2 separate regions of the Homo sapiens genome follow, and region 2 is linked to region 1. Evidence: fine-mapped expression QTL. A gene starts in region 1. The other region holds a variant in brackets. All regions are shown on one strand. Distances are between the middles of the regions.

What was found. PIP is the estimated chance that this variant, and not a neighbour inherited with it, causes the effect. A credible set is the group of variants that fine-mapping cannot tell apart.
Region 2: its variant is the best candidate, but not a certain one, in a credible set for the expression of LINC01886 in skeletal muscle (GTEx, PIP 0.85).

Annotation. Positions count from the first base shown.
Region 1 is chr2:107,526,260-107,531,647 of GRCh38, reverse strand. It overlaps LINC01886 (long intergenic non-protein coding RNA 1886), which reads right to left and starts at 2,229. Exons shown (of 3, transcript NR_146968.1): 1 at 1,949-2,229. It overlaps LINC01885 (long intergenic non-protein coding RNA 1885), which reads left to right. Exons shown (of 6, transcript NR_183423.1): 2 at 2,784-2,867.
Region 2 is chr2:107,501,554-107,506,941 of GRCh38, reverse strand. The region is part of intron 2 of LINC01885 (long intergenic non-protein coding RNA 1885); the gene reads left to right. Among named protein-coding and RNA genes, the nearest start is that of LINC01886, 25 kb to the left of the region's middle. RefSeq lists enhancers at 3,310-4,043, 4,044-4,778. The variant G/A (reference allele first, on the strand shown) is at 2,231.

The DNA.
Region 1 (5,388 bases):
CTGTATAGGAGTTCCAGCTTAATTCCTATTCTGCTGGTCTCCTGAAATCACTAAATGTGATATTCTGAGTGTGAAGCTTCATTTCTTTCCAGGGATTCCCTGAAAAATGAGAAAATAGACTTGAGCTAGTAATATATTCTACTTCGACTATCCACAAATATTTACAGACAAACAAGAATCACAGCCTAAGAAGAGATATCACACGCAAACAAACTCTAAGAAAGCAAAATTAATAAAGTGGAAAAAGGGAAACCTCCACATAAACAGTCCTCACTCCTCATCAAGAATTGAGATGTAATTTGTTTAAAAAAAAGAAGTGGGGGAAGAGGATGATGAGGAAGAGCAGAAGCAAGAGGTGAAGATGAAGAGGAGGAAAAGAAAAATAAATGAAAATAAAGTGGTTAATAGTAAAATAGAAGCCTCTCAACAACAGTTCTTGGAGTTTTAAAATATTGTTATAGAAACAAAATAATAAAGAGTAGATGAGTGCTATAAATAATATACGTAGTGAGAATGTGATTTATAAGGTGGAAACTTGTGTGAAGGAAACAAAAGATATTAGAAGAAAAATAATGAAACTTGGAAGATAAATCTAAAAATTCCAACATTCATCTAATAGGAGTTCTAGAAATTCATACAACAATTTGCCAAAGATGAGATTATCAAAGACTTTTTTTAAAAAAAAGAAAATGTCATGGTGCAAAGAACTTAAATTCACCTTTAGAATAAAAGGGCCAACAGGGCACAGAGCTGACTAATAAAATTTATATTACTTGTAGAATATAAACATATGGGGGGATAATAGGATTATAAAACCTAAAATAGTTGCTAAGAAATTATTTCTAAGTACTTAAAGGCCTAATGTAAAAATAATTATCATTCGTAATTAAAATTCCATTTTAAGAAAGCGCAGGAGGTGGTGAAGTTAGAAGAAAAAGTAAAAGCATGTGAAAAATAGTGTCCTTCCATGTGCAGTGTGAAAAGACACAGGCAGAAGAATATATAAACAAAATGTTTTTAATAAAAAAACCTTCTGAAAATAATAAGCAAAATAAAACTCAGAAAAAAATAGGCAAATGAGATAGACTCTTAATTCACAGAAGAAATCCATGGATCTGATAAACTAATAACAAACCGGTAATCAAAGAAACAAAAATTTTAAAAGTAATGAAATAGTGCTTTTCATCCCAAATTGTCAAAAATTAAAAATAGTAATACTTAACACTCAAGTTTTTACTATGTTATATGATGAAATGGAATAAATAAAGAGATGATCTCACTCAGTGACCATAATAAAACTATGGAGAATGTGTTTTTAATATTCTATCTGTATAGATGGGAATATCAAGATTTTGGGAAACTTCCAGAACCTTCTCTACTCTTCCAGAAATCCTCCATCGCCTCCCCTTCACAGCTAAAATTTTGGGAGGTTAACTCTGTACATATCATATCCACTTTCTCACCTTCTTCTTTTCACTCATTAACTTAGGGCAGTTATTTCTCTACTTCCATCACTCCAGTGAAATATTTATTTCCAAGCAAACCACTGTATGATTAACCCAGTAGCTTCTTCTCAGTCCTTATCTTCATTGCCTTAGGTGATTGAAATTGCAACTTATTTTAACTTCTTGATGCATCTTCTTTCCTTGACTATGGCCCTAAAGGCTTGCACATTTCTTCTTGCTCTTTGCTGAAACCTGCACATACTTCTCTATGCCTAACCTGCCACTTCCCCTAACTCCCTAGTGCTCCAGAAGCATTCGTTATGAGCCAGTGAGTTTAAAATATGTACATTCCCTTGCAGACAAACAAATTACATCTACATGCAAAATGAAGTTGCACAGAGGACCAGTTTCTTAAGGTAAAAGAAGAAGTATGGCAATTATTCCCTTACCCACAAACTCAGACTATCTCATATTGGTACAGGAATGAAGAAGAAATTACTTACACAGATAGTGAGGGTATGGAAGTCTTCGGTACAGTTTTCCTTTTAATGAAAAGTAGCCCCAAATCATGTTCCTTTCTAACAAAGAGCAGCCTGTAAAATCAAGCTGCAGATATAGATGCTGGCAGTTGTGCCAATCATGTTCAAAATAGCGGCTCCACCTTCCCTTCTCTGCCAGCCACATGTACAGTAAGGAGCAGACAAGATGGCCCTGGCCAAGGGGAAAGTTCAGTTACATAATAAGATTAGGGTAGGGTGGCCAGCCTTCCCTGGGCTATGTAAATGTCACACCTGATGGAACCAATCTGTGAGCTCTACATAAATCAGACACCGCCTACTGGAGCCTGACTATAAAATTCACCACATGTGCTGCCAGCTGGCCTTTCCTCTTGGAAATCTCCTCCCTCTCCCTAGAGAGAGAGAGAGCTGTTTTCTTTTCTTTTTCTTTTCCCATTAAACCTCTGCTCCTAAACTCCTCATATGTGTCTGTGTCCTAAATTTTCTTGGTGCAAGAGGATGAACCCCAGGTATTTACCCCAGACACCATAACTGCTTCAATATCGCTTTTGCTCATGTTTAAAAAAAATACTCCTAATTGTAATTCTTTTTTGTGAACATGTGACTAAACAAAATGAGTACAGCACAACAGGTTCCTGTTGTGCATCAGGATAATAATCTAGTATTTTTATCCATTTTTTGGATAAATGTATTTAACTCCATTTTTTCAGAACTGGTCATGGAACACAAACATTGTCTTGGTAAATAAATGCCTCATTTATTTACCAATAATAAATAAATATTATTTATATTTATTTATTTATCTCTACTTTTATTTTAGGTTCAGGGAATGCATGTGGAGGTTTGGTACATGGCGATATTGCTTGTTGCTGAGGCTCAGTGTAAGAATGATCCTGTCACCAAGGTAATGAGTACAGTACCCGATCGGTACCCTTCCATTCCATGTACCACTCCCACCCTTCTTCCTTACGCAGCCCCCAGTGTCTATTGTTCCCATCTTTGTATCCATGTATACTCAATGTTTAGTTCCCACTTGTATATGAGAACATGCCTTATTTGATTTTCTATTCCTGCATTAATTTGCTTAGGATAATGGCCATCTGCGTTCATGTCCCTGCAAAAGACATGATTGTGTTCTTTTTGATGGTTACGTAGTATCCCACGGTTTATATGTACCAGTTTCTTTATGCAGACTACTATTGATAGACATCTTGGCTGACTCTGTGTCTTTGCTAAGGTTACTAGCTCTGTAATGAACATACGAATGCATATGTCTTTTTGGTAAAATGATTTATATTCTTTTGGATGTATACCCAGTAGTAGGATTACTGGGTCAAATAGTAGTTCCATTTTAAGTTATTTGAAATATTTCCACGCTGCTTTGCACAGTGGTTGAAATAATTTACATTTCTACCAGCAATGTATAAGTGTTCCCTTTTCTCTGCAGCCTTGGCAACATCTATTTTTTTTTTTTACTTTTTAGTAATAGCCATTCTGACTGGTGTGAGGTGGTATTTCATTATGGTTTTGATTTTCATTACTCTAATGATCAATGATAATGAGCATTTTAAAAATGTATTTGTTTATCACATATATGTCTCTTTTGAGAAGTATCTGTTTATGTCCTTTGCCCACTCTTTAATGGGGTTGTTTTTTGTTGGTTGAATTATTTAAGATCCTTACAGATTCTGGATATTGGGCCTTTGTCAGATACAGAGTTTGTGAATATTTTCTCCCATTTTGTACGTTGTCTCTTTCCTCTGTTGATAGTTTATTTTGCTGTGTGGAATCTTTTCAATTTAATTAGGTACTACTTGTCAATTTTTGTTTTCGTTGCACTTGCTTTCAAAGACTCAGTCATAATTTGTTTGCCAAGGCCGATGTCCAGAATGGTATTTCCTAGGTTTTCTTCTAGGGTTTTTATTATTTTAGGCCTTATATTTAAGTGTTTGGTTTACCTTTAGTTAGTTTTTGTATATGGTGAAAAGAAGTGGTCAAGTTTCAATATTCTGCAAATAACCAGCCAGTTATCCCAGCACCATTTATTGAATTGGAAGTCCTTTTCCCAGTTTGTTATTGTCAACTTTGTTGGCCGGGTGCCGTGGCTCACACCTGTAATCCTAGCACTTTGGGAGGCCAAGGCAGGTGGATCTCCTGAGGTCAGGAGTTCAAGACCAGCCTGGCCAACGTGGTGAAACTTCATCTCTACTAAAAGTACAAAAATTAGCCAGGCCTGGTGGCAGGTGCCTATAATCACAGCTACTTGAAGGCTGAGGCAGGAGAATCGCTTGAACCTGGGAGGTGGAGGTTGCAGTGAGCCATGATTGCGCCATTGCACTCCAGCCTGGGTGACTAGAGTGAAACTCCATCTCAAAAAAAAAAACAAAAAAAAAAAACTGTCGAAGACCAGTTGGTTGTATTTGTGCAGCTTTGTGAGTTCTGTATCCTGTTCCATTGTTCTATGTGTTGTTTTTGTACCAGTACCATGATGTTTTGGTTATTGTAGCCTTGTAGTATAGTTTGAAGTTGGGTAGTGTGATGCCTAGTGGCTTTGTTCTTTCTGGTTAGCTTTGCAATTCAGGCTCTAAAATTCATATGAATTTTAGAATAGCTTTTTTCTAAATCTGTGAAAAACGACATTGATAGTTTGATAAGAATAACACTGAATTGATACATTTCTTTGGGCAATTTGGCCATTTTAACATTATTGATTCTTCTAATCCATGAGCTTGGAATGTTTCTTCATTTGTTTGTGTCATTTTTTATTTCTTTCAGCAGTGTTTTGTAATTCTTCTTGTAGAGATGTTTCACCTCCATGGTAAGCTGTATGCCTAGGTATTTTAATCTTTCTGTGGCTATTGTAAATAAGACTGCATTCTTTATTTAATTCTCAGTTTGGATATTATTGGTGTATAGAAATGCTACTGATTTTTATACATTGATATTGTATCTTGATACTTCAATGAAGTCGTTTATCAGTTCCAGGAGGCTTCTGGCAAAATATTTGGGGTTTTCTAGGTATAGAATCATATCTTCTGCAAAGACAGATAGTTTAACTGCCTCTCTTCCTATTTAGATGCCTTTAATTTTATTATCTTGCCTGATTGCTCTGGCTAGGACTTTCAGTAGTATTCTGAATAGGAGTGGTGAGAGTGAGCATCCTTGTCTTGTTCCAGTTCTCCAAGGGAATGCTTCCAGCCTTTGCCTATTCATGCCTTATTAAACCATGTAATAATGTATAGTGCAACTAAGCATTTTTGAATGATGTCTGTTTAGATAGCAAGCATCAGTGACTTATGGTTTATTAACAAATATATTTTGTTACTTCCAAAACATAGAAAATGATCTCTACCTGATAAAGGCATTTAACAATAAAATATGAAAAAAGGAAACATTTATACCAAAGAAGGCCTTGTAAAAACCAA
Region 2 (5,388 bases), 25 kb after region 1:
TGTCTGAAATGCAAAGTGGTTCAGCCACATTGTGAGAAGCTTGGCAGTTTCTTACAAAACTAAACATATTCTTACCGTACAAGCCAGCAATCACACACTTTGGCATTTACCCAAATGAGTTGAAAATGTATATCCACACAAAACCTCTACACGAATGTTTATAGCATCTTTAGTCACAAATGCCAAAACTTGGAAGTAACCAAGTTGTGCTTCAGTAGGAAAATAGATAAACTGTGGTACATCTATACAGTGGAATATTAAAAGAAATGAGACTTATAACGCTATGAAATGACATGGAGGAAACATAAACACATATTAATAAGTGAAATAAGCCAATCTGAAAAGGTTACATACTGTAATATGCCAACTATGTGACATTTTGAAAAAGGAAAAACTAGGATATAGTAAAAATATCAGTGATTACCAGGGATTAAAGTGGGGGGGAATGAGTCAGCAGAGCAGAGAGAAATTTTTGGGCTATGAAACGACTTTGTATGAAATTGTAATGGTGGATACACAGCATCAAACTTTGTTAAAACCCCATAGAATGTACTTCCTTAAGAGTGAAACCCAATGTAAATTACAGACTTTTAGTAGATAATTATGCATAAATATTGGCTCAAAAATTGTAATAAATGCACTGCACTTGCATTAGCAAGATATTAATATGGGAAATTGGGGGTGGTGAGTTCCTACACACTTCACAATTTGTAAATAGCACTTAACTAGACCCACATCACTCCCCCTCAGAGAGAGGAGGGAGTTATTTCTTGCCTGTGATTCCTGCCTCTGGCTCCCAGAGTTCTTACTAAAATCTCCTAATCTCTGAATGTTACGTAGGAAACACCAACACTTTTGCTAACAGAGATCTCTCTTTCTAGGTCTTTCACACAGCTCTGCTTGCAAGGCAGTAAGAGGAGTTAAAATGCTGAAAGAATGGCAGATTCTCTTATGCTATGTTAGACATTTATTCCATTAGTTTATTTTTGTTTTTAGAGAAACTCACTGAAGCCTGGGATTAAGAGGGCTTTGATTTCTTTACACAAAGCAATGTCTTGCCAAGGAAAATGAGAACCTCTAAAAGCCTTTGTCTTTTCTGCACGGAACAGCCATTGTCACTAAGTCAATGACATCTCTGCAGAAGACAAAGAAGTAAGAAATGCTTAGATTTACCCTAGCTTATTAAACCAGGTTTGTCTTCCTCCCAATTCCTAGAGGTTCCCAAAGTCTTAGAGTATGTCAAAGTGCACGAGGACTACTGACAATATCCAATTTTTGAGAGATGTTTAATGAAAAATTAAACTAGATATAGAAGAATAGGAAGGAAAAGTATAGATGTTTTACTAAAAACATCTCTAAAATAGCAGGCATCCTCTGCCAGGCTTCCAGGACAATGTCTGTTGCTCTTGCTCAGGGTAGGAGAATGTGATCTCAGAGCAGTAAACCCGAGACAGCCCCCTGGCAATCTGCAGATCTGGTGGTTTTGTTTTTTCCTCTCCTTTCATTTCATTTCTCTTCAGTTTCATTTGTAAACTGGCTGGGTTATGTCCCGACAGGTTGAGATGTTTAGATGTTTCTTTGAGAGTACTTCATGGTACCAAGAACGTGGTCTCTCTTCTCCATTCTTCATAGCCTTCTAGTTAAGGATGCCTCATCTAATCTGAAAGCATTTACTGTGCTCAGAATCCTATCACACTGCAGCAGGTCCTTAATCTGTCACTGACACTGAAGATTAATAATATTACAAATGCCTGTGATAAAGCCTATCTCTCATTCGTTTTTTCTGAGTTTCCTTGTCATGCAAAGATCATGTGAAGAGTTCCCCCCTTTCCTGGACCAAACTGAGGGTCAAGCTGCTATTTCTTGTGGCCCAATAATGAGATACAGATGAACTGGGGAGGAAGAGAGTTTATTTCTACAACCAGTTACAGGGAGAAGACCTGGAAATTATCACCAGATCAACTCAAAATTACAAAGTTTTCCAGACCTTATATGTCTTCTAAGCTATATGTCTATATGTAAGTGTGCATTCATCTATAAAGACATAAGTGATTAATGTCTTTTAATCTATAACTAAGGTCTGAGCCCTGAAGACCTTCTTCTGGAGTCTCAGTAAATTTACTTAATCTAAGTGGGTCCAGGTGCGAGCGTGATTACCCTTATCTTTTCTCCTGCTAAATCATGGAGGTTTGGGGAGTTCCTTTAGACCCCTAATAAACTTGTTTGTGGA[G/A]GCCTGGGGAGTTTCTTCAGACCCCCAAAACTTTTTTTTTTCTTTTTTGAGACAGAGTCTCTGTCGCCCAGGTTGGAGTGCAGTGTTGCAATCTCGGCTCACTGAAACATCTGCCTCCCAGGTTCAAGTGATTCTCCTGCCTCAGCCTCCTGAGTAGCTGGGACTACAGGCATGTGCCACCATGCCTGGCTAATTTTTTGTATTTTTAATAGAGACAAGATTTCACCGTGTTAGCCAGGATGGTCTCGATCTCCTGACCTCGTGATCTACCCGCCTTGGCCTCCCAAAGTGCTGGATTACAGGCTTGAGCCACCATGCCCAGCCAAAACTTGTTTAATCCTAAATGGGTCCTGTTAAGTATTCCTTTGTTATTTGTCATGCTTTAAGGCCCAGGAAAGGCCTTCGCAAAACTCTTGGTGGGCTTTTGTTACATTATAGCCTTTGTATAAAGTCACTGGCTCTTTTAGCTTTTAATATTTAACTTAATCACCCAGTCAGTACTGAAACAGTTGTTATGAAGCCCTGCATTAGTGAGACCTGACCTGCCACACCCCTACACAGGATCCTAAGACAGACTGTTAAAGGCAGGTCCCCAGAGTGGCACTGTAGGTAAACACAGAGACAGTTGCAGCATAGAGACAACTGGGACCCCTCTGCAAACTGCTCAGCACCTTTTCTATCTCTCTGTGAAACTCTTCTGTCGCTTGAAATGCAATTTATAGACTTAGAGGAATTCTGTGTTTCATCACATAACAAAATGCAGAAGGTAGAACTCATCATTTTTGTCTTTGGCTACCCTGAAAGCAGATGTTTTGTTGTTAAGAGAATAATAACAAAGTTTTTTTTATCGTAATGATAGAAGGAAACAAGAATAAAGACCCTTGTATATGGAGTATAAAAGAAGAAATGAATAATGCAGCTGACTGAAGAGGGGGACTCAGTAACTGAAGAGCTGGGAAAGCGGATTGAAAGGATTGAAGACTTAGGTGTTTGCCTCAAGACCCTGGGAGTTCTTTATCCAGTTCTCTTATTTTTGTTTTGTTTTGTTTCTCATTTGATGGGAAGAAAAGATTTGAGAGAAGGGTAACTCCAGGAAGCTGTTTTAACAACCTCAGAACTAGAATACTTTGCCACAGAGTTATAAGATACTTCTTTTTTGCTTTTACTTTTGTTTTTGTTTTTTGACATTTGTTTCTGTTTCAAAAATGTTCAATTAAAATATGTGGCAAAGACATTCTGTTCACACACCCCATCCATTGCAATGACAGTTCCCAGCTTCAAACCTGCAAACCGACTTTTTTTTGGAAACCAGTTTGTCTCCTAATAGCATTTGGTTGCTTTTATCTCCTTACTTTTGATTTAAAAAAATGTTTTTCTCCTTCTATGTGAAATTTCATTTCAAAAAGAAGACTGATGGCAGGCATTGAATCTGGAAGCTCTTCCACCCAGAGTGACAAAAATAAAGAGTGATGCTGAAAGCTGCACTGCATGAAATCCTCTCTCTGCCGTCCTTTCTCCAAATCCCTTGCTGGCTCTAAAGAGATCTCCTGAGAACAGAAATTGTACATTGACATTGACTGGTTTTTATTCAACGATTAAGCCACACCTCATCTCCTGTATTTTCCAAATAGACAGCAGGGCTGTTTTCTTAAAAGTGAAAGAAAACGTTGACAAGGATCTCACTATATTAGATCATTTCCAAGGTCACTCATGACCCTATTATCTCCTGCTCTCCAGTAGCCTAAACACGGGATCAGAGGGTAGTAGAATATCCTTAACATTGGCTTCTATAGGTGTGTTGCTGCTAACTTGGAGAGGGCAGAGACAGGCTATTACAGACTTCTTTCATGATGCAAATGTGGGAGCTAGTCCTTTGTTACCAGCTGGTAAGGGAAGTTGGCAGATACATGAAAATGGAAGGACTAGCACATAGCAAACAAATGGCCATTTAAAATGTTGTTATTCATTTAGAAAGTCTACAAGTCAGACTACTAATGCTAAATTGGAGTGAAATCAGACCCCATACATAGTAATGAGCTTTGAAGTTTAGCTTAGAGTTAAGAGAGATCCATCATTTTATGTTAATGCAGACAGGCCAGACAAGGAGAATGACAATGGGAAGACATACAAACTAGGTGAGCACCAAGAAAAGCTTTTACAAGCCATTCACAAGGAGTGCAAACAATAGTGAATGCACCGATTCCTTCTAAAATGCTCCCATTCAATGTTTTTCAGTGTCTATGGAAGGAATAAAACACATTGCCCACAGTTCTCTTTGTTCTAATCACTTCCACAGAGGTTGAAGATTTATTGGCTAATGGGAAACCAGGAGGGGCATAAAGGCTTTTCTTGATTAACATGGGTAATGATGTCATAAATAGAGAGCATAAAATATTCATTTATATTTGATAATCCTCTGAAAATCTATTGTCGTAGGATCACGTAGGCCAATCTGCGGCATCTTTAATCACATTTTAATGGCATCACATGGGCAGTGTGTAATAGCACTTCATCTCACCTCAAGAATGCAGAATAACCGAGTTTTCCGTAGTAATCAGGCATTGTGCATTAAATTCTTAATTCAAAATAACAAAGGCTAACATTTATTGAACACTTACTAAGTGTCAGCTACTAGATACCTTACATATATAGTTAATATTCACAATATTGTTATAAAGAGATACTATCTCATTTTAGAAAATAGGAAACTGAGGCATGGGAGGATAAATAATTCACACAGCTAGAAAGTGGTAAAGCAGAATTTCAAACCCAAGCAATATGACTAAAGAACTCATGTTCTTAATTACTACATTAAATCTTTGTCATTTATTACAACTTTATAAACTTCCACAAATCTGAAATTTCAAAAATTTGAAATGATTTGATTTTAATTTTCCAATATTGTATTATCATTTAATACATCTCCAAATTATCCATGTTGCTTAATTTGGCTGCATTGGGTCAGACATTTATGGAAATAGAATTGCACTCATCAGATTTGTCTGTAGTATCTGGGCTTCTTAGAAGAAACCAATGAACGCCCGCATCGACATCATCATCCCCAGAACTATTCACCCAGCCGAAAACTGTGCTAAGCACTAGATCTCATGGGGTCTCATGGACTGCTTGCTTCCGGAGTTTATCCACTTTTAATGCAC